5 separate regions of the Homo sapiens genome follow, and all the other regions are linked to region 1. Evidence: fine-mapped expression QTL. A gene starts in region 1. Each other region holds a variant in brackets. All regions are shown on one strand. Distances are between the middles of the regions.

Region 1 (6,060 bases):
CCTCCCGGGTTCACGCCATTCTCCTGCCTCAGCCTCCTGAGTAGCTGGGACTACAGGCGCCCGCCGCCACGCCCGGCTAATTTTTTTGTATTTTTAGTAGAGACGAGGTTTCACCGTGTTAGCCAGGATGGTCTTGATCTCCTGACCTCATGATCCTCCCGCGTCGGCCTCCTAAAGTGCTTGGATCACAGGTGTGAGTCACAGCGCCCAACAAGAAGTGCATAGCTTTTTTTGTTTTTTCTTTTTGAGACGGAGTCTCACTCTGTCGCCAGGCTAGAGTGCTGTGGCGCGATCTCGGCTCACTGCAACCTCCAACTCCCTGGTTCAAGGGATTCTCCTGCCTCTGCCTCCCGAGTAGCTGGGATTATAGGTATGCGCCACCATGCCTGGCTAATTTTTGTATTTTTAGTAGAGATGCGGTTTCACTATGTTGGCCAGGATGGTCTCGATCTCCTCACCTCGTGATCCGCCCACCTTGGCCTCCCAAAGTGCTGGGATTACAGGCGTGAGCCACTGCGCCCGGCCGAGAAGTGCATAGCTTTTTAAAAAATCTTTGTAGCTATCTTATTTAGGAATGGGAGGCAGGTTTGCCTGTGGCAGTTCCCAGCTTGATTTTTTCCTTTGGCTTATTGATTTTGGGGTCCTAAGATTTATTTTCCTTTCACAATACTCTTGTACAGGTGAGGAGACTGAGGCCCAGAGAGGAGGCTGCCTGCCTAACATAGACCAAAGGGTCAGAACCAAGAGTAGAACTCAGACCCCCTCACTTCAGGCCCAATGCTCTCATCACATAAAAAGGATGCCTTGATTATACGAATGTGGCACTGAACTATATAGGCTGACCCCAATTCTTTCTTCAGTGTAAACAATAATAGGAATAGGAGCAACAGGCAGCGTTTCTGCAGCGCTTCTGTGGCAGGCAGGTTCTAAGGCCTCCCTGTGGATTTCCTCTGTCAACACTCACGTTTACCCTAATAAGTAATTTCTATTATAAACTTAAATATTTACTGAACTCCTCCCACCAGTACTTGTTAACTTGGGAGAAGGGGGAGATGCAATAAAATCTTTCTTTTCCTAAGACCTGTCTCCCAAGATAGATGGACGCAGGCCCAAAAGGGCACAATGGAACACTGACTGTTTTCCGGCCTCCTTCCCACCCTCCAGGGTGCTTCACACTCCTCCCCTGTGCTGGAATCATCCTGGACACTGGTTAGGATGTGTAAAGTCAAGCATCACCAAAATTCCTCTGCTTGTCCTCTTGGCATTAGGCTCAGTTTAGGCCCTGCCTCTCCTTCCTTGTCCTCCTTCCTCCCCATGTACCACTATCGGTTGTTTCCCCAGTGCAGCCAGCTGCCCGCTTCTGTGTCTTTGCATATCCAGTTCCCTCTTGGAATTCCCTCCTCCGCATTGACTACTGACTCCACCTTCCCAAGTCAAGTCAGCTGCTGCAATGTCCCCTGCTCTGGGGAGCCTCTCGGACTCAGATTGACGTGGGGATGTGCCCTGTGCCCCTACTTGTTACTAGCTTCTGCTGCTCTGCCTCTGATCTCTCCCTCCCCTTCCCGGCCTGACACCTCATGGGGTTTTGCCCTGCCTTCTCTAGGCTTTATCCCATTGCCCCGCCTTCATTCATTCTTCTCTCACCTGAACTACTCCACAGCCTCCTAGCAGATTTGCACCTGGTCCTCAGCTCAACTTTCATCTACCACTGCTCCCCTCATATTACCTGATTGCGTCTCCCCAAATACAACATCTCCATGTTCCATGCAATCCCGTAAAGCACTGAGCCAAGGACTGGAGATGCCAACAATGGTCCTGGTCCTCAAGGGGCTTCCTACCTGCCCCTCCGGCCTTCCCCCACCCAACTACCTAAAACACAGGCAGAGAACCTCTGAAAACACAGCAGATCCAACCATTCCCCTGCTTGAACCTTTCGGTGGCCCCTAATGCTCAGAGTGCAAAGTCCAGGAGCACAAGGCTCTTTCTCACCTTCCCACAAACTACCCCGTGACTCCAGGCTCCAGCCCAGAGCCCGGACAGCCCCTGCCCCAGCCTTTGCCCAGGATTCTCCCTTGGCGGCAACTTTCCCTGTGGTTCTGCAGCATCATCTCCCAGTCTGGGTCAGAGGCCTCTCCTTAGCCTCTTAGCCCCCAAGCCTCTCCCCGTAACTGCACCTATCACCCTCAAACCATTGTCTGGCTGCCTGTCTCCTCCCACACTGGTCCCTGAGCAGAAACAAGGACTAATCCATGTTTTTCAGCTCCTACCCCTAATGAAATACCCTAATAGATACTGAAAAATGTTTTTGAACCAATGAGACAAGTCTACTGATAATAAACAGGCAAATAACAGCAATGTGCTAACAGTGGCTGTTTCTGGTGAGCAGAATTTTGAGGTCTGTTCCTTTCACTTCTTGGTATTTCGGTTGTTTCTGTAATGACTGTATCTTGCTTTTGTAATCATAAAGGACAGTAAAGGAAACTTCATTTTGAAAATAATACAAAGGGATTCGGGGACTTCAAAAGAAGGTGACTCTCCTCGTCCACTCCAGAGAATCAGGAAAGGAGTGTTTAAAGACCCACAGAATTCCTACAAGTGACGTTGGGGGGGGGCCAGCCAGCCAGGGCGCATGCCGGCCAGCGAGTGGGGTGGGCTCTGGGTCCGGGAGAAGTCAGATCAGTGCTCTGTACAGGGCCTTGAGGGCAAGACGAGGAATTTCGACTTAGGTCCTTGAATCTGGAGAGCTACAGAAAGTTTGTGAGCTCAGGAGAAGCGCTCCGAGCTCGGCATCTGGAGCAGTTCAAGGCAGCAGCGAGCAAGTCCAAAGACGCAGGAGGGAGGGTGGGGTGGAGGAGTAGAGAGAAAACAGAAGCCGTCTACAGACCCTTTTTCCCTCTGGGGCAACTAAACCTCAAGTGCAGGAAGCGCTTGGGGACTGCCCAGCCCTCAGCTGTGTTATTATTCGGTGATAGGTATTTGCTAATTACTTCCAAAAGCCTCCCATCTGTCATCCCACCCAGACTGCGCGCTTCTAATTCCTCCTACCCCACATGCTGTGCCCAATGAAAAGTATGGTCAGCGAGCGAAGGTTTGCAAGGAGACAGACGAGGGCGAAATTAAGCCAGGCGGCTTCCCTTTAAATCCTCGCAAAGCAGAAGGGCCCCTCACTCTGGCAGCAGGCCTTGGCCAAGGGGCCTTTAGCCCTGACGACCCGGGGAAGAGTCTCCCAAAGCAGAACGCCCGGTCCGGCGCCCAGACCAAACGCGGGGGAACCGGAAGGGCGAGGCCTCCACGTAAGTCCGCGGTAAAAGTGGCAGGGAGTGGCTGCCTGCAAAGACCCCAAGACGGCTTGAAGAAGGAGTGGGTGGCGGGTGGGGGTTAGGGCGACTAGGCGGGGAAACAGGGAGAGGGTCGGGCTCCGCGGGGCAGCTGGGGCCGGGGCTCGCCGACCTGGGCGGGGGCGGGGGGCGGGGGGGGTGCGGCCCGGGCGGGGCCGGTGGGGCGGGAGGCGTGGCCGGCGGGGGGAGTGGGGGCGGCTTTTCCCGGCACATGCGCACCGCAGCGGGTCGCGCGCCCTAAGGAGTGGCACTTTTTAAAAGTGCAGCCGGAGACCAGCCTACAGCCGCCTGCATCTGTATCCAGCGCCAGGTCCCGCCAGTCCCAGCTGCGCGCGCCCCCCAGTCCCGCACCCGTTCGGCCCAGGCTAAGTTAGCCCTCACCATGCCGGTCAAAGGAGGCACCAAGTGCATCAAATACCTGCTGTTCGGATTTAACTTCATCTTCTGGGTGAGTGAGCGCGACTGCCGCGCGCTCCTCTCAGGGCCCACCTGTTCGCGGGCCCCGGACACTGGCCGCGGCCGCGAGTGCCGGCAGCTGGCACTGCCCGCACCGGGCAGGCACCGGGCGGGAAGAGAGAGCGCCCTGCGGCTGCCAGCTGGCTCCAAGGCCGGGTCCAGAGCCGGGCGGGACGGCCGCGACGGGCGCATTCGGGTGGGGGCTCATCACCGCCCAGCCGGCGTGGGGAGCCGGGCCCTCTTGAGATGAGGCGTGCGGGAGGGTCCTGAGCACTTTAGCTCGCCTAGGATTTGAGCTGGGGTGTGTGTCTGCTCCCAGCTCAAGTCCCTCCGAGTGCCAGAGAGGAAGGCAGGGAGAAGCGGAGCACCCCTCTTTGGGCCAAGGCCAAGGAGGACTGTGGTGAGCAGTATGGCTTGTGACCGGGTGGGGTCTCCCAGGTAGTAGGGGGCGCCAGGAAGGGAGGGTGCGGGCACGGCGAGAGCTCAGCCAAGAGCGGCTCTCACTTTTACGCAGGAGCGGCAGGGGTGCCTCGGCCGCGGGTCCGGCCCCGGGACCCAGTCCCTGAGAGTCGGGGGCCCCTCCACCCTTGAGGAGGAACCTCGCAGGCCCCCGTTCCCTCAGACTTTGATTCTGAGCCACCGTGAGAGCGCCGAACTCCCTGGTAGCTCCCTGAAAGACTAGCTTGTCTTGATTTCTTTCAAGGACGATAAGTATCTTCACTGGAGAGAACTCAGAGTTCGGGAGAGGAGGGGGCAGATACCTATCTGCGCCTCTAGTGGGATGAGTCCTGTGTGTGCATTTCCGGGAGAGATCAGGTGCCAGCCAGCTGCCCGCCCAGGAGAGCCTTGGCCTTGCCCTCTCCCCTCCCCGCCAGCCCAGGCGGCCCACCCAAGGCCAGGCAGGGCGCAGAGCGGACGTTCATCTGGAGAGGCCAGCGGGGCCAGGAGCTCCAGAGACACCTGCTGCAGGCCACTCAGCCTCTACAAATGGGAAGGCTGAGAGGCGACAGAAGCAAGGAATAGGAAACCCTTGTGTCCTTGTTTCTATAGCCACATTCCCTGCACACACATGACAATACTTGCCGCTCTGCAGGCAGGAAGAGAGTCTCTATGCCACTCTCAAGATAGATGGATGTAGAAACAGGTGCATGCCACCAGAGTCTTGTAACAAAAAAGTGCACTTGGCCAGGCACAGTGGCTCATGCCTGTAATCCCAGCACTTTGGGAGGCTGAGGCAGGAGGATCGCTTTCATCCAGGTTCAAGACCAGCCTGGGTAACATAGTGAGACCCCCATCTCCACAAAAAAATAAAAAATTAGCTGGGCGTGTTGGCATGCACCTGTGATCGCAGCTACTCAGGAGGCTGAGATGAGAGGATGGCATGAGCCTGGGAGGTCAAGGCTGCGGTGAGTCATGATTGCACCACTGCACTTAGCCTGGGTGACCTAGTGAGCCCTGTCTCAAAAAAAGTAGAAAAGAAACAAATGCACTTATTCCCCCTGGAGCTGGTCACTGAGGTCCCCACAAGCCTCCTTAGGGAAATCTTCTAAGATTCACTCCTCCCCAGAGCTGAAGGGGTGGTTGAACAGTTTTTCCAATTTGCAGAGACTGACTTCCCCCAGTGCATCAGTCACCATAACACACACCCCAGTGAGGACGGCATATAGGTGTGCTCCTTCCCAACCCTTGACTTGCTTTAAAAAGACCCTGCTGGCCGTGGGCACCCCTCCTCCTGTGTTGCCACCCACCCCAGCAACCACCCAGCTGCCACGCTTAGCTTCTTTCTTTCACCAATCCCTGGCAGCAGAAAAGTATGCGGGAAGGCAGCTGGCCTCACCCACCCTTGAACTTTGGGAGTTTTCCTCTCCCCTCCCAGGTACAGTCTCTCCCGGCTGGTGTGTTGGTTAGTCCTCAGCTGTCTGCCTAGACTGCATCCAGGTTTGGGACTGCAGGGAAACACAGACTGCCACAGTGTGCCTCCCTACCCCCATCTGCCCCATGGCATATGCAGGAAGCTGATGCGAGGCTCACAGGGCCACTGGTATCTACTCTGTCTGTGGCCTGCTGGCCTGCAATCTGTCCGTACTGTCCTCAGCCTGCCACCCCACTCGTATTCAGAACCCCCTATGCCTGGCCCCAGCCTAGGTGCAGCTGATGACCTATGTAGTCTGAAACAGAAATCACTCACACTGGAAATGTTTGGAATGACTTTTGAAGATCATGCAGTCCAGCTCTCTTATTCATAGTGAGGCAGCAGAGGAAGAGA
Region 2 (6,060 bases), 32 kb before region 1:
CGCCTGTAATCCCAGCACTTTGAGAGGCCGAGGCGGGTGGATCACGAGGTCTGGAGTTCGAGACCATCCTGGCCAACATGGTGAAACCCCGTCTCTACTAAAAATACAAAAAATGAGCCAAGTGTGGTGGCAGGCGCCTGTAGTCCCAGCTACTCAGAAGGCTGAGGCAGGAGAATCGCTTGAACCCGGGAGGCAGAGGTTGCAGTAAGCCCAGATCGCACCACTGCACTCCAGCCTAGCAACAGAGCGAGACTCTGTCTCAAAACAATAAAAAATAAAAATAAGTAAATAAAATTTTCAAAAGATGAGTTAATACAGTAAATTCTTGTCTTCTTTTCTTCTTCTTCTTCTTCTTCTTTTTTTTTTTTTTTTTTTTTTGGAGACGGACTTTTGCTCTTGTTGCCCAGGCTGGAGGGCAGTGGTGCAATCTCGGCTCACTGCGACCTCCCGAGTAGCTGGGATTACAGGTGCCCACCACCACACCCAGCTAATTTTTTGTATTTTTAGTAGAGACAGGGTTTCACCATGTTGGCCAGGCTGGTCTGAAACTCCTGACCTCAAGTGATCTGCTTACCTTGGCCTCCCAAAGTGCTGGGATTACAGGTGTGAGCTACTGTGCCTGGCCAATACAGTCAATTCTCATTATTCATAGTGGCTGTGTTTTATGGAGTCACTGCAAACACTGAATTAGTGAATGCCAAACCAGTGCTCCTAGGGGAGATACAAGGGGAGGTTCCTGTGAGCCTCTGGTCACATTTTCATCAACAAATCAATGCATAACTTTTTCTTATGTGTGTTTCTGTCTAACGACACCTTATTCAATATATATTGCTGAATAATTCACATTGAACTCATAGCCAACAGCACTATAACTCATGCCTGCACGAAGCTTAACTACTAGACATATTTTCTCCACATGACACATCACAGCTTTCTCTCACTTAGGAACTCTGGACAGCACTTCAGCATGATGCTGGGACCATTTTAAACAGTGGAATCACCAACACGCAGCAGAAAAATGCAAAACACATGGTACCAAGTAGACCTTGAAAAGGACACTTGCTTGTGGTATGAGCTGAAACAAGAAGGCAGACTGTCACCTTGTTCACCCTCTGCTGGGAATGTGCACATCCTGCCAAATTTTTCTCTGCTCTGTGTTCATGGATGGCCATGCAAGCACTGTGAGTATTGATTTTGGCAATACAAGTAAATTGTATGGAGTAGACAAATTTTTATTTTTTTATTTTTATTTTTTTGAGATGGAGTCTTGCTCAGTTGCCCAGGCTGGAGTGCAGCGGTGCTATCTCGGCTCACTGCAAGCTCCACCTCCCATGTTCACACCATTCTCCTGCCTCAGCCTCCCGAGTAGCTGGGACTACAGGCGCCCGCCAACACGCCCGGCTAATTTTTTTTGTATTTTTAGTAGAGACGGGGTTTCACCATGTTAGCCAGGGTAGTCTTGATCTCCTGACCTCGTGATCCACCCACCTCGGCCTCCCAAAGTTCTGGGATTACAGGCATGAGCCACCACACCCGGCCAGAGTAGACAAATCTTTAAATACAGAATGTATGAGTGATGAGGATCAACTGAATATAGAAAGCCCCTAGAATAGTGCCTGCCCAGTAGGAAGCATTCGATAAATCGTGTTACTTTGTAAGCTTTACAGCAATCTGCTGAGATATTGCTATTTCCATTTTACAGATGAGGAAAGTGAGTGTCCAAGAGGTTAAAGACCTGGACCTGGTTCCCATGGTTGGTCAGTGGTGGTGTTGGGACTTGATCCCAGTTTCAGACCTGGTTTAACTATTTTGTGCATTGCCTAGAACACGGGCCCCTTCCATGCTCCCTCTCCACAGGAACACAGGCATGGGTTGTATGTGATACACACGCACAGGCAGGCCCCACACACAAGCAGAATTCCTGTGTTTACTCCTTTCACAAACCTCCTTAACTCTGAGGAGCCTTAGAAACAGAGAGGTGGCCGAGCGTGGTGGCTCACGCCTGTAATCCCAGCACTTTGGGAGGCCGAGGCAGGTGGATCACGAGGTCAGGAAATCAAGACCATCCCAGCTAACACAGTGAAACCCTGTCTCTACTAAAAAATACAAAAAATTGGCCAGGCGTGGTGGCGGGTGCCTGTAGTCCCAGCTACTTGGGAGGCTGAGGCAGGAGAATGGCATGAACTCGGGAGGCGGAGCTTGAAGTGAGCTGAGATCGTGCCACTGCACTCCAGCCTGGGCAATAGAGCGAGACTCCGTCTCAAAAAAAAAAACAAAACAAAGAAAGAAAGAAACAGAGGTTTCCCAGCTTCCTGCCCAGGCCACGGAACTCCTCCCTCCGGCTGCAGAGCTCCCACCTCTTCTCCCCCATTTCTGCCTCAGCATCTCCCACCCCACGCTGGCCACTGAGGCAGCCTGGCCAAAAGGAGCTGATAGCAGGTCCTCTCAGCTTCCTCTGCAGCTCAGCCAGGGGCCACAGCTGGGCCTGTCCAGCCTCACTTGACCAAGAACCGAAGTCCCAGGAGAAAGGAAAGTGAGGCCAGGATGGTGACAGGGTGGAGAAGCTGGGCCCCCAGTGAGCCCCCACAGAGGGTAGGACACAGAGGGACAAGTGTGAGGGGCAGTAACTGCCCGTAGGAATAGTGGCCATGGGAGAGACACCGTGGTGCCCACACCCCAGTAGGTCCTCAGTAAAACTAACATCCACCTGGGCCGCACAGGTAGCCCTGCCACCCTCCAGGGCCCAGGATTCTTTGAGTGAGTTTTAGAACGCCTCTGAAATCTGGGGAGATATGACAGCCCACAGCAATTTGCATTTTTTGCTTTCCTGTTATCAGAGGTGACTAAACTCTGGCCTTCAGGCCAAATCCAGCCAGCAGACTCCTATGTGCAGCTCACTAGCTAAGAATGGTTTTTACATTTTTAAAGTGTTGAGTAACAGGAGAAAATCTGGGGTGAGAGGAAGAGAGATCATATGCCCCACAAAGCCTAGAATATTTACCTGATGAAGAAAATGTTGCCAGCCCCTGACCCAGATGGATTTAGCAGTGGAAGCCCTGGCCAACCAAGTGTGAGTCAGGGTGGCCCGAACACCAGCCCACATCCACCCATCCCCAGTGTAGACATCAGGCATGTTATTCAGCCTCTATAAGGCTCACTTTTCCCTTCTGCAAAGTGGAGGCAATAACAAGAGCTGTGTCCCAGGGCTGTGAGATTACATTAGGTGTCGTCTATGTCAAGCCTTTAGCCCTTGGCATCCTGGGCTACTGTGTGGGCAGAACATGGGTGCCGGTGACGGCAGTGGTGGCGGT[G/A]GAGAGGCGGAGAGGAGGGAAAGGGTCCCTTCCTGACCAGCTGCTGTCTCCATATCTCAGAGAAATGGGGAAACTGAATCATGGGGGTGACTCATCTGAGGTCACCAGCTATAAATAGTCCAAAGACTCATGACAGACTGCAAGCAGGTCCTAGAGTCCTTCCGTCCACAGCCCCTATCTGTGTCTACCTCGCCCACATACACCCTTTCCTAGACTTCTGTCTTGGGCCCCATTCTCACGGGACATTGCTCACCGCGGCCGACTGATTGAACGCCTCTGTTGTCTTTTTTTGCGGGGTGGGGGGGGAGATGGAGTTTCACTCTTGTTGCCCAGGCTGGAGTGCAATGGTGCAATCTTGGCTCACTGTAACCTCCGCCTCCCGGATTCAAGCAATTCTCCTGCCTCAGCCTCCCAAGTAGCTGGAATTACAGGCATGCGCCACTACGCCCGGCTAATTTTTTGTATTTAGTAGAGATGGGGTTTCACCATGTTGGTCAGGCTGGTCTCAAACTCGTGATCTCAGGTGATCCACCCGCCTCGGCCTCCCAAAGTGCTGGGATTACAGGCGTGAGTCACCACGTCCAGCTGCCTCTGTTGTCTTAGATGCCAACAGCTAAAGTTATTTCATATCCCAGGGGCATTTCATTTCAACAGGTACATTCTAAACCCCCAAATATTCACAGATATTCACCTCTAATTGCTTGTCAGTCACAATGACAGGACCAAAGCATCCCTTGATTTTCCCAGGTTCCTCCCAACACTGGAACCAACGTCTGGGGTCAGCTCTCCGAATTCTCACAGTCTCAGATGTTTGGCTCACACTCTGGAGTAGACGGGCAGATGCAAGCACATGGCTTGGCTGGGGAGTTCAGTGTAGCTGTGTTGCAGCTTCTCAGGCCTCCGTTCTCCCGCTTGCCAGCCTGCTTGATAGGGGTAAGGTCCCTCAGAGGGGACATGAGGCCCCTTTGATCCCAGAATAACAAGAGAAAGTCTGGGGGGAGAGGAGGAGGTACTGAGATTCTTGGTACCTATACTTTATGAAATGAAGAAACATCTAAACAGGGTTGCAGAACTTGTGGTCTATTTGATCCTCGTTAGTATAGTGGTGATCATCAAAAAAAAAAAAAAAAGAGCTTGTGATCTATTTGAAATAGCTACATGGCAAAGTTAACGCTTTTAATCCCAAAGCATAATGCAATCTAATGATGCTAACCCACAAAAGCAATTTCAGGATGTATTTGCAAACATTACTTTATCCTGAACTCTTAGGCAAAGTCATGCAGCAGTGAGATGAATGGGAGTTTCATGTTGAACAGTGCATATTGTTTTCCGTTCTGTCGGGGCGTCTCTGTGTCTGATGCAGCATTGCTTTTCAGGGAGATGAAGTCCCTGAAAATGAGACCCAGGTCCCGAGGTGAAGCTCCTTCTCTGGGGTGCTCCGCAGGGATTCCTAGACGGCTGTCCCCCGCTGCTGAGCCACGCTGAGCTGGCTGCTCTCACTGGAATCCTGGAACTGGCTCTTCTCTCACATGGGCACTCCAAGGGCCACCAGCATCTCCTCCTACACAGGTGCAATTTTTTTCTTCTTTTTTCTTTTTCCGTTCCAGGACACTTGTCACCGCCCTGCCCTGTCCTTTCTCCTCTCTTCCTCCCTCTTAGGAGAGTTGCCAGAGTTGCCAGTTTCTTCTTCTTCTTCTTCTTTTTTTTTTTTTTTTTTTTTTTGAGATGGAGTCTCACTGTCACCCAGGCTGGAGGGCAGTGGTGCAATCTCGGCTGACTGCAACCTCCGCCCCCCAGGTTCAAGCAATTCTCCCTCCTCAACCTCCTGAGTAGCTGGGATTTCAGGCATGCACCACCATGCCCGGCTAATTTTTGTATTTTTAGTAGAGATGGGGTTTCACCATGTTGGCCAGGTTGGTCTCGAATGCCTGATCTCAGGTGATCCGCCCGCCTCGGCCTCCCAAAGTGCTGGGATTACAGGTGTGAGCCACTGCGCCCCGCCACCAGTTTCTTCTTTTGGTGCTCAAAAAATGATTCTTCAGAACATCATGGAAAGGGAGCAAAGAAAAGAATAGCTTTACACTAAAGAAACAGGTGACCAAGGTGAACACCAACAGCCATAAGTCACGTTGATAGTGCCCTTGATATCATGGGATGAGAATGACACTTACCTCTGTGGTCTCCCTCTCCAAAACCCAAACGCCAGTCTACTCAAGAGGAAAACATGAGACACATCCCAGTTAAAGGACATTCTGCAAAATCCTGACCAGCACCTCTCAAAATAGTCCAGATCACCAAAAACAAGGGAAGTCTGTGAAACTGTCACAGCCAAGAGGAGCCTACAGAGACATGATGACTAAATGTAATATAGAATCCTGGTGGGATCCTGGGACAGAATGGGGGCAATAGGTTAAAAAAAAAAGAAAGCTGAATAAAGTGTGCACTTTAGTTAATAATATTAGTTCATTAACAGTGACATATGTACCACACTAATGTAAGATGTTAATGACAGGGGACATTAGGAATGGTGAAAAGGGATGAAAAAGAAATAGAAAAATAGAGCTGGGCGCAGTGGCTCACGCCTGTAATCCCAGCACTTTGGGAGGCCGAGGCAGGCAGATCACCTGAGGTCAGGAGTTCAAGACCAGCCTGGCCAACATGGTGAAACCCCGTCTCTACTAAAAATACGAAAATTAGCTGGGCATGATGGCAGGTGCCTGTAATCCCAGCTACTTGGGAGGCTGAGGTG
Region 3 (6,060 bases), 61 kb before region 1:
GCCATTCTCCTGCCTCAGCCTCCCAGGTGGCTGAGATTACAGGCATGTGCCACCACACCCAGCTAACTTTTGTACTTTTTAATAAAGACTGGGTTTTACTATGTTGGTCAAGCTGGTCTCAAACTCCTGATCTCAGGTGATCCGCCCACCTCGGCCTCCCAAAGTGCTGGGATTACAGGTGTGAGCCACCATGCCTGACCTAAGGATCTAGTAATCTAGGATGATCTATCTTGCCATCCTTGATTACATGTTCATAGCCAGGTTGACAGAAGAATCCAGGGGGTTACCAGGTGCTCAGTAAACAAACTCAAGGATCTGAAATCTTCACTCCATCCCACTTGCTGCTTCCTTCTTCCCAAGCCCATTATGACTCCTTTAATGACCAGCAGCCCAGCGACTTTCCTCTGGCATGGCCTCAAGCACTGCTTCAGCTCCACCAGGAGCACCAAGGCACTAGAGGCCAGGCAGGAGCAGCCCAGGTGGAAGGCCCCAGGGCGAGGAGGAGCCCCAGCAGCCTGCCTCTTTCCCTTTCGGTGGGCCCTTCTTCTCCAACCTCCCATCCAACAGTCAGCACACGTGCCTTCCTCCTGCACCCTTGCTGAGCACACGCCCACGTCCACCCTGACCCCACACCCTGCACCCCAGAATGTCTGATTGGTCCCCGGAGGCATTGCTTCCCAGACACCTCTTGTGTTCAGCTCACACTGTTCCACCATCCAAATGTCCTGCCTCCTCCCCACTCCTCCTCTCTCCTGTTCATCCTTCCATGTCCCCCTCCTGCAGAGGGAGAATTTGTCATTTGGTGAACACCTTGCAAGTACCAGATACTCTGCTAGCTGCTTGTGAACACTGTGTTACTTCATCCTCCTCTGTGAGTGTCCCAGTGCTGCCGTAACAAATCACCACAAACCGAGTGGCTTAGAACAGCACAAATGTCTTCTCCCACAGTTTTGAAAGGAAGAAGTCTGAAATCAAGGTGTCCACAAAGGCTGTAAGGGAGAGACCTTCCTCACCTCTTCCAGCTTCTGGTGGCTTCAGACTTTCCTTGGCTTGTGGCAGCATCACTCTAATCTCAGCCTCTGTCTTCACATGGCTCTCTCCTCATCTCCCTGTGTGTCTCCCACTGTATATTTCTTATAAGAACACCTGACATTGAATCTAAGTAATCTGGAAGGACCTAGTAATCTTTTTTTGGTTTTTTTGTTTGTTTGAGTCGGAGTCTCACTGTCACCCAGGCTGGAGTGCAATGGTGCAATCTCAGCTCACTGCAACCTCTGCCTACCTGGCTCAAGTGATTCTCTTGCCTCAGCCTTCCAGGTAACCAGGATTACAGGTACGTGCCAACACACCCAGCGGATTTTTGTATTTTTAGTAGAGACAGGGTTTCACCATGTTGCCCAGACTGGTCTTGAACTCCTGACCTCAGGTGATCCACCCGCCTCAGCCTCCCAAAGTGCTGGGATTACAGGCGAGAGCCACCGCACCCAGCCTCTTTGTTTTTGTCAAGGTGGAGTCTCACTCTATCACCCAGGCTGGATTGCAGTGGCACAATCTTGACTCACTGCAGCCTTCACCTCCGAGGTTCAAGTGATTCTCCTGCCTCAGCCTCCCGAGTAGCTGGGATTACAGGCACCACCACCACACCCAGCCTTTTTTTTTTTTTTTTTTTTTTTTGGTATTTTTAGTAGACAGGGTTTTGCCATGTTAGCCAGTCTGGTCTCAAACTCCTGGCCTCAAGTGATCTGCCCACTTCGGCCTCCCAAAGTGCTGGGATTACAGGCGTGAGCCACCACACCCCGCCTAAGGATCTAGTAATCTAGGGTGATCTATCTTGACATCCTTAATTACATCTGCAAAAAGCCTTTTTCCAAGTAAGGTCACATTCACAGGGTCCAGGAGTTAGAATGTGGACATGTCTTTTGGGGGTCACCATTCAATCCACTGTACCTTCTAACAACCGTTTGAGGGAAAGAGAGCGTTACTCTCATTTTATAGTTGAGGATGCTGAGGCTCAGACAGGGTAAGGGCCTTGCCTAGGATCACACTGCTACCAAAGGCAGCCAGCATCTGAATCTACCTGATTACAAAGTCCGTGTTTTCTCCACTATACCTATAACTCTTCCATAAGCCTTTTCTCCTTTCCTCCCACCCTTCACCCCCGCTTTTCCTGCCTTTGAACCACCTCTGGGTGCTTCTGTGGCCCTCTCATCTTTTCATGCATTTTTCTTTTTTTTGAGACGGAGTCTCGCTCTGTTGCCCAGGCTGGAGTGCAATGGCGCGATCTTGGTTCACTGCAACCTCTGCCTCCCTGGTTCACGCCATTCTCCCACCTCAGCCTCCCGAGTAGCTGGGACTACAGACGCCCACCGCCACACTCAGCTAATTTTTTGTTTTTATATTTTTAGTAGAGACGAGGTTTCACCGTGTTACCAGGATGGTCTTGATCTCCTGACCTCGTGATCTGCCCGCCTCGTCCTCCCAAAGTGTTAGGATTATGGGCATGAGCCACCGCTCCCAGCCTTTTCATGCATTTTTGTTTGTCTTATCTCCTCCAGTCTGAGCTCTCCTTAGAACAAGACCTTGCCTTACTCATCTCTGTATCTTCCAAAGTGCTCTGTCTGGAGCATAGCACATGGTAAGTGCTCCATAAATGTCTGTTGAACTCCCTGCTAGTAGAACAATGATGTGGGTTAATTAGCATATAATATTAAAATGTAGCTACAGAACTGAAACTGCAGATAAAAAAAATTGCTTAATACCCAAGGAAGTTGTTGCCTGCTCTCCAAATCATCAGCACAGAAGATAGCACTCGTCACTGTGGTTGGGGAAATTGCACGGTGAAAGTCACAGGATGGCTCTGCAAGGGGGCAGGGACATCAGACTGGGGTCACGTTCCCATGTGGTATTCTGCGCCTGTAACTCATATGACACTCTGGCACTATTTCTAAATAACACTCAAGTGTCTGTTTTATCAGAGTATAACACACTTGGCTGGAATAGTTCACTTACTGATATTCCACAATTTATGTAACCAGTTCCATATTATGGGATATTTATTTAGGTTAGTGCTACTTTTTTTTTTTTTTTTTTTTTTTTGAGATGCAGTCTCGCTCTGTCACCCAGGCTGGAGTGCAGTGGCGCAATCTCGGCTCACTGCAAGCTCCACCTCCTGGGTTCATGCCATTCTCCTGCCTCAGCCTCCCGAGTAGCTGGGACTACAGGC[A/G]CCCGCCACTACACCCGGCTAATTTTTTGTATTTTTAGTAGAGACAGGGTTTCACCGCGTTAACCAGGATGGCCTCAATCTCCTGACCTCGTGATCCGCCCGCCTCTGCCTCCCAAAGTGCTGGGATTACAGGCGTGAGCCACCACTCCCGGCCTACTTTTTTTTTTTTTTAATTAACAATGCTGCAGTGAACATCTTTGAAGCTATATCCATGCACAACCCTCAGGATTACTCCCACAGGATGAAATCCTACATGTGGAGCACTGGGTCAGCCACCGTCCACATTTTCAGTGAGGCCTTTGACAATAAGGCCAAATGGCCCCCCTGAAAAATTGCAATGGTTTATAATGGTTGCAATGGTTTAATTACCCATTTGCTGAGTAGGATTTTGCCAGGTGAAAATGAGGGCAAAGGCACATCAGCTGCAAGGAAGGAAGTAAAAGCTTAGAAGCAGGCAAGCTCTGAGATGCTAAATCAGTAAGTAGGTGAATAAGCCAGTTGTTACAGCCTATAAAGGAGACTCACAGGAAAAGAGACCAAAGAGAGGAATAAGAGGCAAGTCCTCAGGGACCTTCAACCAGTGTAGGGGTTTATGTTCATCCTGTGACACCAGATGAGGCCCTCTGGCAGCAGTGGCATGTATTGTGAGAGGTCAGATGGAGAAAGGGAGATCCATTAGTGGTTGGTGGAACCTTCCCGGACAGGGAAGACGAGGGCCTGGAGGAGACCATGGGTTTGACAAGAGAAGAGCAGATACAGCCAACCACGTAACACATTACGGTAGCAGAAGAACAGCCAAAGATGTCTACATCCCATCTCAAACCTCTGAATGCTACCTTACATGGCAAAAGGGATTTTGCAGATGTGAGCAAGTTAAGGGTCTTGAGATGGGGAGATGATCCTGGCTTACCCCAGAGTATCCTGCTGGGCCGATATAATCACAAGAGTTTTTATAAGAGGAGCAGGAGGGTCAGCATCAGGGAAGGAGATGTGATGATGCGAGCAGAGGTCATGCAACGCGGGGCCACGAGGCAAGGAATGTGTGCCCCTGGAAGTGGATAGAGGCGAAGAACAGGTTCTCCCATAGAACCTACAGAAGGAATCCAGCTCTTCCAACACACCTTGATTTTGATCCAATTCGAGCTTCTTACAATTACGAATTGTAAGATAAATTTGTGTTGTTTCAGGCCACTAAGCTTGTGGTCATTTGTCACTGCAGCAATAGAAAACTAATATAGGCCAAGATATCATGCCACACAACCTGCTCCCTTGCCCTCATGGAGGGTGTCCCAAGGCAGCTTTGCCAAATAAGTTAGAGGACAATTAGTGCTGTGAGGCTCAAGGAAGAAGGATCCCTGAGGACCACAGTATGAGAGCCATTAGAACTTGGGCTGATGTAAACAGCATTAAGTACAAATGGGAAGGGTGCGTGACCTCTGGGGGCGCATGGGGCAGGGCTGCTCAGAGGCAGGGGGATGGGTAAATTGACCTCTGCCTGTCTGAGGAGTAAGTTCTCCAGGTAACTAGTACAAAAGCAAAAGAACCTCAGGGGAGGAAAGGTTTTCTAGGAGGACCCATCTTTGTCTTTTCTTTGTATATTTGTAGCATCTCTCTTACGTAAATTCTGCAGGAAAGAGAATTTTCTTGGCAGTATGCGCCAAATAAATAAACACAGCAGTATTTCTTAGGCCAGACGACCAGCTCCCAGCATAAAGCTGTAGCCCCCAGCGGAGAGGAAGCTGTCCTCCTCTACTTCCTCTCTTCTAAAGACAAACATCTTGTGCAAGAATAACATGCTCACTTCCTTCACAATCATCAAAATAGAGAGGACCCACCCACGCTACAATGTCAGAAGAATGGTGCAGCTTCAGACTCATCTTCCCTGGTTCTCAGGAACAATGACACCACATTATTGCTGCTATCGAGCTACAGAGAACTCAGACCATTACATCTGGTGGCATTCCTGGCCCCAGTAGTAGCACAGCAGGATTCCTGACCCCAGAATCACTATCTCAAGACCTGGGGTTCTAATTTGAGAGGCAGAAAGTTACAGCAACTCAAATTTATATGCATCTTACAAAATAGCTTCAAAATACATAAATTGACAATTGACTTCAAAAAGGCTTTCTCAATTATCCATAGGTCAGGCAGATAAAAATCAGTAAAGATAGAAATTTTAAAAACAATGATCAGCCTAGGCAACAAAGTGAGACCTCATGTCTACAAAAAAAAGAAAAAATTAGCCAGGTGTAGTGGCACACATCTGTCATCTTAGCTATTCAGGAGGCTCAGGCAGGAGGATTGCTTGAGCCCCGAAGTTCCAGGCTGCAGTGAGCTATGATTGCACTGATGCAGGGCAAGTAAGCTCCCAAATTGGGACTTAGCCCTGGAAGATTCTTGGCTTTGCTCAGGAAAGAATTCAAGAGCCAGCTGGTGGTAGAAGAAAACAGCTTTATGGAGGCAGCAGTGTGACAACTTTATGACTACTCCTGCAGAGCAGGGCTAACCCCTAGGCAATGTGTTGAGAGCACCAGCTCAGGGGCAGGTCAACAGTCATACATATACCCACTTTCAATTACTTGCAAGTTAAGGTATTGAGAGGTGACAGCGTGCTGGCAGTCCTCAGAGCCCTTGCTTGCTCTCAGCACCTCCCCTGCCTGGGCTCCCACTTTGGCGGCATTTGAGGAGCCCTTCAGCCCCCCACTGCACTGTGGGAGCCACTTTCTGGGCTGGCCAAGGCTGGAGCCCGCTCCCTCAGCTTGCAGGGAGGTGTGGAGGGAGAGGCGCGAGCAGGAAGCAGGGCTGCGTGCCGCGCTTGCGAGTCAGCTGGAGTTCCG
Region 4 (4,000 bases), 120 kb before region 1:
AAGATGCTATTTGCAATTTTTTCTCTCACTCTTTCACCAGAGTGCAGTGCAGTTTTCCGAGGCTATGAGACATGAGATATCCCAACAGATTTAAATGCAGACGCAGATATGAGAGTCCAGATGATGTATCTGAAGCCAGACAGCAAGGAGATTTGCAAAACTGTAAAACAGTGTCATTTTTCCCCTAAATTATTTTTTGGCTTGGAATTTATCGTTCTTTTTATTTAAAAATATGGTGTTTTTTTTTTTGAAACGCAGTCTCGCTCTGTCGCCCAGGCTGGAGTGCAGTGGCACAATCTCGGCTCACTGCAACCTCTGCCTCTAGGGTTCAAGCAATTCTCTTGCCTCAGCCTCCTGAGTAGCTGATATTACAGGTGCACACCACCACGCCCGGCTAATTTTTGTATTTTTAGTAGAGACTGGGTTCCACCATGTTGGTCAGGCTGGTCTCGAACTCCTGACCTCATGATCTGCCCGCCTAGGCCTCCCAAAGTGCTGGGATTGCAGGCGTGAGCCACCGCGCCTGGCCTAAAAATATGTTCTTTACATTAAATATGATGAGCTTGTTATTTTAAAATGAATCAAAAAATGTTTTAAATTTGTTTTAATATCTAATATGGTAAGTATCAAGAGTTATGACCCACATAAACAAAATCTCTTTAAAGTCCTTCATTATTTTTTAAGAGTATACAGGGGCCCTGCGATTAAACAGTTGGAGAACTGCTATACAATCGTTAAATTTTAAGTTTAGCCGAAAGCTGCCTCCTTACATATTTTAAGTTAGGCCTAAAGGTTTCTCCCTACATAATGAACTGTAACCTAACTGGAGATGTAAACACACTGTAACCTCCTCTTGGGGCAGCCCACTGTTCAAACTACGTTCTAATAAGGCAAATGTTGCGCTGTAGCCAATCCAACTGTTTCTCTACCTCACTTCCAGTTTCTGTAAGTCACTTGTCTTTTTCTGTCCATAAATCTTCTTTGACCATGAGGCAGGCCAGAGTCTCTCTGAGCCTGTTCTGATTCGGGGGCTGCCTGGTTCATGCATCATTCTTTGCTCAAGTAAACCCTGTTAAATTTAATTTGTCTCAGGTTTTTCTTTTAACACTAGTGATGGGGTGCAAACCCTGAGTGCCTGAGTCCATTCCAAACCACAAATTACAGTTTTCCATCCTGCCCTCCCACTCCTGTTTCCTAGCAATCAGATTAGAAGACAGGGTCATACAGTGGCTGTAGCTCAGGTTTTAGAAGCATGGTTGGGCTAGAATCTCAACCCATCACTTTCTTTTTTTAGATGAAGTCTCGCTCTTGTTGCCCAGGCTGGAGTGCAATGGCGTGATCTCAGCTCAATGCAACCTCTGCCTCTCGCAACCCATCACTTTCAAAGCGTGTGACTTTAAGAAAATGATCTTGGCCAAGTGCAGTGGCTCACACCTGTAATCCCAGCACTCTTGTATTTTTAGTAGAGATGGGGTTTTGCCATGTTGGAAGGGTAGTCTCAAACTTCTGACCTCATGATCCACCCACCTCGGCCTCCCAAAGTACTGGGATTACAGGCGTGAGCCACCGCAACCGGCCTGATCCCAGCACTTTTGGAGGCCAAAGTGGGCAGATCAC[T/A]TGAGTCCAGGAGTTTGAGACCAGCAATATGGCAAAACCTTATCTCTACAAAAATATCCAAAATTAGCCAGGCGTGGTGGCACGTGCCTGTAGTCTCAGCTACTAGAGAGGCTGAGGTGGGAGGATCACTTGAGCCTGGGAGGCAGAGGTTGCAGTGAGCCAAGATTGCACCACGGCACTCCAGCCTGGGCAAGAGAGCGAGACTCCGTCGCAAAAAACAAAAAAGAAAAGGAAAATTATCTTGCCTCTCTGCATCCTCATTTCCCTACCTGTGAAAGAGGGGAAAAGTGGAAGAGGTTGAAAGTTGTCCAGGAGCTATTCTCCCCTTCTTAGTCACAGAATCCTCAGTTTTCAATTTCCCACCCCCACGGGGCACAGAGCTGCTAGGAATAAGATTCCATTTCTCAGCCTCCCTTGCAGCTGGGGGCAGCCATATGACTAAGCAATACCCAGTAGGCTATAAGCAGAGGGGTCTTGTGCAACCTCCACCAAGTGTCCTCAAAATAAGGGACTGCTTCTTCCTTAGTCCCTTCTCTTTCTACTGCGGGAATGTAGTTGTGATGCCTGAAGCTTGAGCCGGCGTTTTGGTGCACAAGGTAGAAGCCCCCACTGGGGACAACAGAGAAATAAGACAGAGGGACCCTGGATCCCAACACCATGAGATCTTGCATGGCCCTGGACATCCTACCCCAAACTTCTTTACATGAGAGATAAATAAACTTAGATTGTATAAGTCCTGTCACTCACAGCTGAACCTACTCCTAACTGACACAGACAGCAGTACTTGGACCTACCCTAGATGGTTTCTGCAAAATGAAATCAAATGAGATGACACCAGGAAATCAAATGCTTATAACTATTCTCATTTGCCTGCAATCGGTACTGGCTCCTCAGTTCTCTGCTAAACCATTCTGGCAGGGATGCAAAACAAGGGCCAGCTAATTTGCACACTTCCAGCATCTCCCTGGCTCCAAGGCCCTGCATCAGCTACTCCTGTCTTCTTTCAACTCCTGTCGGCCGTGCCAGGAGCTGCGGGAGAGCAGCTGCCCCAGCCCATCCAGCCATGACCTCACCATGCCTGGGTTGGTGTGCAGGCCCAATTGTGGCCCATCTTAATCACATTTCCAGTTCATTAAAGAAGACCAGGCATCTTCCCTGGAGACATCAGGCGGGTGCAGGGGAGGAGGAGGGAAAGCAAGCACATCTCAGTGGCAGGCAGCAGGAGGAGAGAAAGCAGAGCCAGAGATCTGAAGCTTAGCTATTGTGTTTGCTCCCAAGCAGCTGACAAAGGAGAAGGGAGGGGGACATTCCTAGGACTGAGTGAACAAAGAAAGGAAAGTCTAATACATAGAGTGCAATATTGTTCCACAAGCCCTGATCTTTCTAGCTCTGGGATGGGTGCCCTGCAGCAGCCCCTGGTAGGTATGGAGGCGCCTGGAGTCTGAGCTGCTCCAAAGTAGTGGGTTCAAGAATTCACCCTGCAGCAGGGAATACTTTCTCATTGGTCAGCTGTAATGATGGGTGGGGGAGGGTAGCTGATTCTATTTATAACTTCTGGCCGGCCCAAGATTCCCACCCGCATTCCAAGATTCTGACTCACAAGGACCTGGTGAAACCTGTTGATAGATTTCCACCAAATGGATGGTTTCTGCAGAGCTTGACATTCCTCTCTCTAAGATAGCTGGGGTCCAGTGCTCATGAGAAGTAGGAGACTTGGCCATGGACCTCTCTAAGGGACCCTCCTCACCTTCTCCTTGGGGCTCCTGGAGGCATCTGAGCAGCTTCTAGGGATTAGGGCATGCTGGCTGGATGGACAAGGACGGGGCACCATTCCCTGGTTCCCAGTCTAGGGCCTACCAAGCTCTGGGGATGGAAAGCAGCCCTTTCTGAATCACTCACCCATCCTGCTCCCAGCAAGAAAAAAGCATCAGCTCTGTGACAGGAGCTAATTCCCCTAAGCTGCGCTATCACTTACCATTCACTTGGCGATTTGTCATTTACTAACCCCAGACAGTCTTTCATGGTTTAATTTCTCTTACGTGTCTTGTCCCTTAGTCTACGTTGTATCACGCAAGCCATATGAAACATCTCAGTGAATATGCACTTATGGGCACCATCAGATTCTTGTCCATTCTGTTGCTCACCAGGGAAAAGGAAAAGGGAAAGGAACCCACCTGAGAAATAGTTCGTTAAAGGATTTTGGGAACATTATGTTAGGGAGGCCTTTGAATTGAATGCTTGGGTGCTAGGTCCTTATCCAACTCTCCTCAAGGGCTTGTCAAATGAGCAACATAAAAAGCCAAGTTCCAATGAGAACACATGGACACAGGGAGGGGAACATCACACACCACGGCCTGTGGGCGGGGAGGGGGGGCGCGGGGGG
Region 5 (6,060 bases), 320 kb before region 1:
TGGGCTCTCAGCTCTCTCCAAGCACCCCGTGCCTCATGCGACTTGCTGTGCCTTCTGGCATCCGCTTCCCAATCAGAAACCTCACACATGTCTGCAAAGCTCCCCCCAGCCAGATCCTCCAGCTCATCTTCCTCTGAACTGTGTTAGTTGTACATATGGAAATCCAGAGAGCCTCCAAGGATTAGAGTCCACGTCTTTTTTTATTTGGAACTCTTACCTGCCGACCCATCATCAAGGACAGGACTCAGCACACTTTTTCTGTAAAGTGCAGGCCACGTGGTTTCTGTCACAGCTACTCAACTCTGATGTTGAGTCACAAAAGAAGTCATAAACAATATATAAGTGAATAAGTGTAGGTGAATTCTGGTAAAATTTTATTTACAAAAGTAGGTGGGAAGCTGGATTTGGCTTGCAGGCCACAGTTTGCTAACTCCTGCTCTAGGACAGGCTTTACTGATAGACATATCTGCACCTGGCCCCTCTCTCATCACTGAAATTGTTTACATGTCTGTCTGCTATACTGGACTTCCTGAAGGCCAGCTCTGTGTCTTTTACCTGTTGAACCCCAGTGTCTGATACTGTGCCTTATATATAATAGGTGTCCAATAAATGCTTGTCCTCTTAATGCCCTGATCTGATAGTACCTGTTTCACGTCTCACAACCTAAGGAGATCATCACTAGGACAGACCATGAGATACTAAGAAGCACAGCAAGAAGATCCACCCACACAAGTTTGGATGATACCTGCCAGAGATTGCAGGGGAACGCAAGCTGGCCTGCTGGCCTCAGCACTGCTCTTAAAGGGTACTCCTTCCTGCTACATCAAAAGGCACATGAACTGATCAAAAGTTTGGACCAGACACTCCAGCTCCTGGATCCATTCCTCCATCTCCTCCCACACTAACCATCCCCGACTGATGGCCCTCCAAGGACTGGGATCAACCAAAGAAGGCAGCCATCTGTGGGAGCTTCCAGGCTCTTTAACCTTGAACCTGTAGCAGATGCCTAATAACTACCACTAACGCATTCATCATGCTGCACCGGTGACGGTCACCATCAAACACATCAGGCCGCTTGGCTCTCTCAGTATTCTTGTGATTAAGTGCAATGATCTCCAGTATACACAAGAGCAGACTGAGCTCAGAGAGGCTATGAATTGTTCAAAATCACTGCAGTGAGCAGCACAACGTGGCCACTAGAAAAAGATGATAAGTCCTAGGCTACATCTAGAATGACGGAGAGGAACAGCCCCTCTATGACTGGTTCATTTCAAGAGGTCAGGAAAATCAGAGCTCATTCAGAGAAGAGAGATGAGAAAGCTAAAGAACTCAAGCCCATAGCCAATGAAAAACGAATGAAGGAACTTGAGGTATTTTACCGGGTAGAGAGAAGGCCAGGGCAAAGATGTGAGAGAAGAAGGATGGTATCTGGCTTCAAACTGCCACTGCAGACTTAGTCGCTGTGGTGCCAAGGGGCAGGGCCAGCCCAGCTGAGGAGGAAGGAAGCATCCCCCTCAGTCTGCTATTCTGGCCATGGCCCAAATACCCATTGAAATTAAGTCCTAGAATATGATGGGGTTCTTAGAGCATTATTTTAATTACTTCACCTGCCTTTTTGGAATAAGACAGTATTTCTCCACATCTTCTTATAAGACCGTATTTCTCCACATCTGTCTTATTCCAAAAAGGCAGATGAAGTAATTAAAATAGTGCTCTTAGAACCGCATCATATTCTAGGACATAATTCCAACAGATGTGGAGAAATATGAATGCTTTTACACTGTTGGTGGGAGTGTAAATTAGTTCAACCATTGTGGAAGACAGTGTGGCAATTCCTCAAGGATCTAGAACCAGAAACATCATTTGACGCAGCAATCCTATTACTGGGTATAAACGCAAAGGATTACAAACCATTCTACTATAAAGACACATGTACTTTTATGTTTATTGCAGCACTATTCACAATAGCAAAGATTTGGATCCAACCCAAATGCCCATCAATGATAGACTGGATAAAGAAATTGTGGCACATATACACCATGGAACACTATGCAGCCATAAAAAAGATGAGTTAATATCGTTTGCAGAGACATGGATGAAGCTGGAAACATCATTCTTAGCCAACTAACACAGGAACAGAAAACTAAACACTGCATGTTCTCACTCATAAGTGGGAGCTGAACAACGAGAACACATAGACACAGGGAGGGGAACATCACACTCTGGGACCTGTCAGGGGTAGGGGGTTAGGGGAGGGATAGCATTAGGAGAAATACCTAATGTAGATGACGGGTTGATAGGTGCAGCAAACCACCATGGCACATGTATACCTATGTAACGAATCTGCAGATTCTGCACATGTATCCCAGAACTTAAAGTATAATTTTTAAAAAAGACAGTAAATAAACATTCTTTCATCAATTCCCACTTTAAAGTAAAGAGCAAATGGTTATTGAAGTGGGTTGAGTAGCGCCCTTACCCTGAAAAATTCATGTCCATGCAGAACCTCATAATGTGACCTTATTTATGGAAGAGGTTTTGCAGATAGAATTTGTTTAGATGAGGTCATAGTGGATTAAGGTGGCCCTAAACCTAATGACTGAGGTCCTTATAAGTAGAGGAAAGGATACACAGAGACACACAGAGAGAAGAAGGCAATGTAAAGATGGAGGCAGAGATTGGAGTGAAGGACTGCCAGTAGCCATAGGAAGCGAGGAGACGGCCATGTGACGATTCTCCCTCAGAGCCTCCAGGAGGAACCCACCCTGCTGGCACTTTCATTTTGGACTTCTGGATTTTGATTGTTTTAAGCCAAGAAATTTGAGGTAGTTGTTCTGGGAGTCTTAAGAGAGTTAGCAACTTAGAAATATGATTGGGTTGAGCATTTCATGAAGAGGCAGTGTGATATGGTGGCTAGAAGAACATAACATGAGGGGCCCAGGCTGGGCTCACATCCCCAGCCAACCATTACCAATTATGTGATCTTGGGCAAGCTATTTAACTTTCCTCTGCCTCAGTTTCCCCTGCTACAAAATAATAAAAGTATCTAGCTCATAAGATGTTTGTTTAAAGCAGTGGTCCCCAACCTTTTTGGCACCAGGGACTAGTTTCTTGGAAGACCATTTTTGCATGGACCTGGGGTGGGGGGATCAGGATGAAACTGTTCCGCCTCAGATCTTCAGGCATTAGTTAAATTCTCATAAGGAACGCACAACCTAGATTCCTAGCATGTGCATTTCACAATAAGGTTCACCCTCCTATGAGAATCGAATGCCGCCGCTGATCTGACAGGAGGTGGAGCTCAGGCAGTAATGTGAGTGATGGGGAGTGGCTGTAAATACAGATGAAGCTTCACTTGTTCACATGCAGCTCACCTCCACTACCGGCCCACGGCCGGGGGGTTGGAGACCCCTGGTTTAAAGCATTAATACCTATGCAGCACTAAGAGTCATGTCTGTTATCAGGGAATGTACCACTATAAATTTCAGCTATTGCAGTAAGCCAAGGCACACAAAGTTCTGGTTTTCCATTTTACTACAATCACTACTATGAATGGGAATAATAATTATGACTCTCTGTCTATTAAATGTGAGGCACTGTACAAACCAGATTGTGCGTGATGTATTTTATCTCCAATTCTTACGATAATGCTGTAAGGGAAGTAGAATAATCTTCATTTTATAGATGAAGAAACTGAGGCTCAGAGAGGTTGACTCAT[C/T]TGGTGAGGATCACACATTAAGGAGTGGTGGAATCGAGATTCATGCTCAGGTCTATAGCACTTAAGTGCTTTTCCATAATACCACGCTGCCCCCTTGGGCGGGCACCAGTTCTGTCCCCCACTGTGTTACCAGCCCTGGCACAATGCCTGGGTCATAACAAGTATGTCCAAAACACTTGATAAATTCATTGATTCACTAATTATAAGATAGATGCATGCCCCTGACATTGGCATTATTGATTTTTCTCTTAAGCTGGATTCAAATAACATAGACAAACATAGACAACATAGACAAACACAGACAAATAACATAGACAAACAAATAACATAGTACCCAATACCAATAAAGCTAGAGATCATCGATCCCTCAATGAGCCAACAGATTACTGGGAACATCACATTCCCACACTGATTTACACAGCATTTTATGTGGCCATACAAACTTGCTGGAAACAGGATCTGTTGTGACTTAGAGATGCCAGGAAAGGCAGCACTGAGATGTGAGACTCCCTGAAGAAACACACTGTCCAGTAGTACCTTCACTGAGGGTGTGGTTTTCCATAGGAGATGGAGCAGGGAACAAACGCATACCTTATAACATTTTATCCTCAAGCAGATTGCTAATCATGTCCTGCTCAGGCTTAACATTTGGTTTGAAGAAAGAAAGAGAAATTGACCATCAGGAACACTAAAAGTGGGACAGTTGGTGCGTCTACAAGTGTGGAAGGCCTGCGAGAACATGACAGTGTTCTTCATCCTTCTCCACTTAAAACATGGCTTGACACTGAAGCTGTCTGCATTTCCTGCTCCCCAGGTATAAGGATGGGGAAAAGGGAAAGGAAGCAGAAGCAGGGTCAGAGCTAAGGAGCCACGTGAAGCTGATTCCACATAAACAATTTTTTCTTCAAATCATCAATAATCAGCAGATGAAGCCGCAGGCAGGTAAATAAGAAGGGACTGTACTCAAGCCCAAGAAACAAAGCCAATTTCAGAAGCCCTTCAGTTTCTTGGTGAACTTCTGACATGATAAGATAAAAGGAAAAGTCTAAATAAACAAGTTATTATAGCTCAGATACAGATCAGAAGAGGAAAAATAATCTTAGGGAACGGTATAGTCATAAGCACGTGCTAAGTAAGCTCTCTCTCTCGATACAAGACCTGTGTGAAGCACTAGGGTTACCAGGACAAAAGACACTATTCTCATTGTCAAGAAGCTCAATATCTAGGAGGGAAACAGACATGAAAACAAATTATTACAATATTTGCAGGGTGCAATACAAGTGGGGAAGAGGAAACCTAAGGGGTCAAAGAAGACTTCATAGAAGAGACAATGCTTGAGCTAAGACCAACATATTAAGAGAAGAAAGAGCATTTCAGATGGAGAGAGGAGCAGGGGCAGGGGCTGAAGGCAAGAAGCAGCATGACAAGTGGTTTGGTTTGACTCCAGCCTAGGGTGTGCATTTGGGGTCAAGTAAAAGCAAAGAGGTAGCCAAGAGACTAATTGTGAAAGCCTGGGACAACATGCTTAAGAAGTGTGAACTCGTTCTGAGGTGCTTAGAAGCCATTGAAAGATTTTAATGAGGAAATGGCTTAATCAGATTTGCATTTGGAAAGATCACTCTGATAGAGCATGAAGATGGTTTGGAGGGGCAAATCTAGAAAGAAGTTCAATCACACAAGGGTAGATAGTGAGTGCTGGAATTAGATTGTGGCAATGGGGAAGGTAAGGTAGAAACAGATACGGGAAATGGAATTGACATGACCTGGTGTCCACCAGAACACGAGAGGAGAGAGAATCTAAGGAGGCTTCCAGATTCTGTTGTAGTTGACAGGGAGAATGGTTAAGACAACCAGCAAGACAAGGAATAAAGAAGTCGCAGGTTTTACAGAGAAGATACTGAGTTTTTTTATGAAGACCTTAAACTTGAGATGTTTCCAAAACATAAATCCAGGCATTTATGTTCAGGAGACAGACATAAGAGCCTGGGGAACGCAGGATAAGTGCAGGTTAAAGAAGAGCATTTGAGAGTCATCGTAGGTAGTTAGATAGTAACTTAGGCCACATAAATGTATGAAATTGCCCAGAAAAGTGTGTGTAAGAAGAGCAAAGGAAAGGAAAAAGGAGAGAAAAACATCTGAAGACAGAACTCTGAGAACACTGATACTTCAATGACAGATAAGGAAGAAAGAACACATGAAAGAGAATAAGAGGAAGCCCATAGAGGCAGAGGAGATTCAGGAAAGAATCATGGGCTCCTGGACACCCAAGGGAGGGAAAATGTCAAGCAGGAGGAAGGAGTCAACTGTTTCAAATGCAATAGAAAAATCAAGTCAAGCAAGGA

The links. PIP is the estimated chance that this variant, and not a neighbour inherited with it, causes the effect.
Region 2: its variant is fine-mapped to the expression of CD9 in whole blood (TOPMed, PIP 0.99).
Region 3: its variant is fine-mapped to the expression of CD9 in whole blood (TOPMed, PIP above 0.99). The same link has a PIP of 0.9 or more in T cells, blood mononuclear cells and monocytes.
Region 4: its variant is fine-mapped to the expression of CD9 in whole blood (TOPMed, PIP above 0.99).
Region 5: its variant is fine-mapped to the expression of CD9 in whole blood (TOPMed, PIP 0.98).

The regions. Positions count from the first base shown.
Region 1 is chr12:6,196,780-6,202,839 of GRCh38, forward strand. It overlaps CD9 (CD9 molecule), which reads left to right and starts at 3,621. Exons shown (of 8, transcript NM_001769.4): 1 at 3,621-3,786. The coding sequence starts at 3,721. RefSeq lists enhancers at 2,493-3,105, 3,106-3,717, 4,944-5,556, 5,557-6,060.
Region 2 is chr12:6,164,584-6,170,643 of GRCh38, forward strand. LOC124902866 (a long non-coding RNA gene) reads right to left here and starts at 5,028. Exons shown (of 2, transcript XR_007063189.1): 1 at 3,565-5,028. It overlaps LOC105369623 (a long non-coding RNA gene), which reads right to left. Exons shown (of 3, transcript XR_931588.3): 3 at 5,251-5,347. RefSeq lists enhancers at 3,228-3,507, 3,240-3,534. The variant G/A (reference allele first, on the strand shown) is at 3,312.
Region 3 is chr12:6,136,196-6,142,255 of GRCh38, forward strand. No RefSeq gene overlaps it. Among named protein-coding and RNA genes, the nearest start is that of VWF, 15 kb to the left of the region's middle. The variant A/G (reference allele first, on the strand shown) is at 3,224.
Region 4 is chr12:6,081,736-6,085,735 of GRCh38, forward strand. All of the region lies in intron 6 of VWF (von Willebrand factor), which reads right to left. Among named protein-coding and RNA genes, the nearest start is that of VWF, 41 kb to the right of the region's middle. RefSeq lists enhancers at 1,107-1,853, 1,854-2,598. The variant T/A (reference allele first, on the strand shown) is at 1,618.
Region 5 is chr12:5,874,593-5,880,652 of GRCh38, forward strand. All of the region lies in intron 3 of ANO2 (anoctamin 2), which reads right to left. Among named protein-coding and RNA genes, the nearest start is that of ANO2, 68 kb to the right of the region's middle. The variant C/T (reference allele first, on the strand shown) is at 3,719.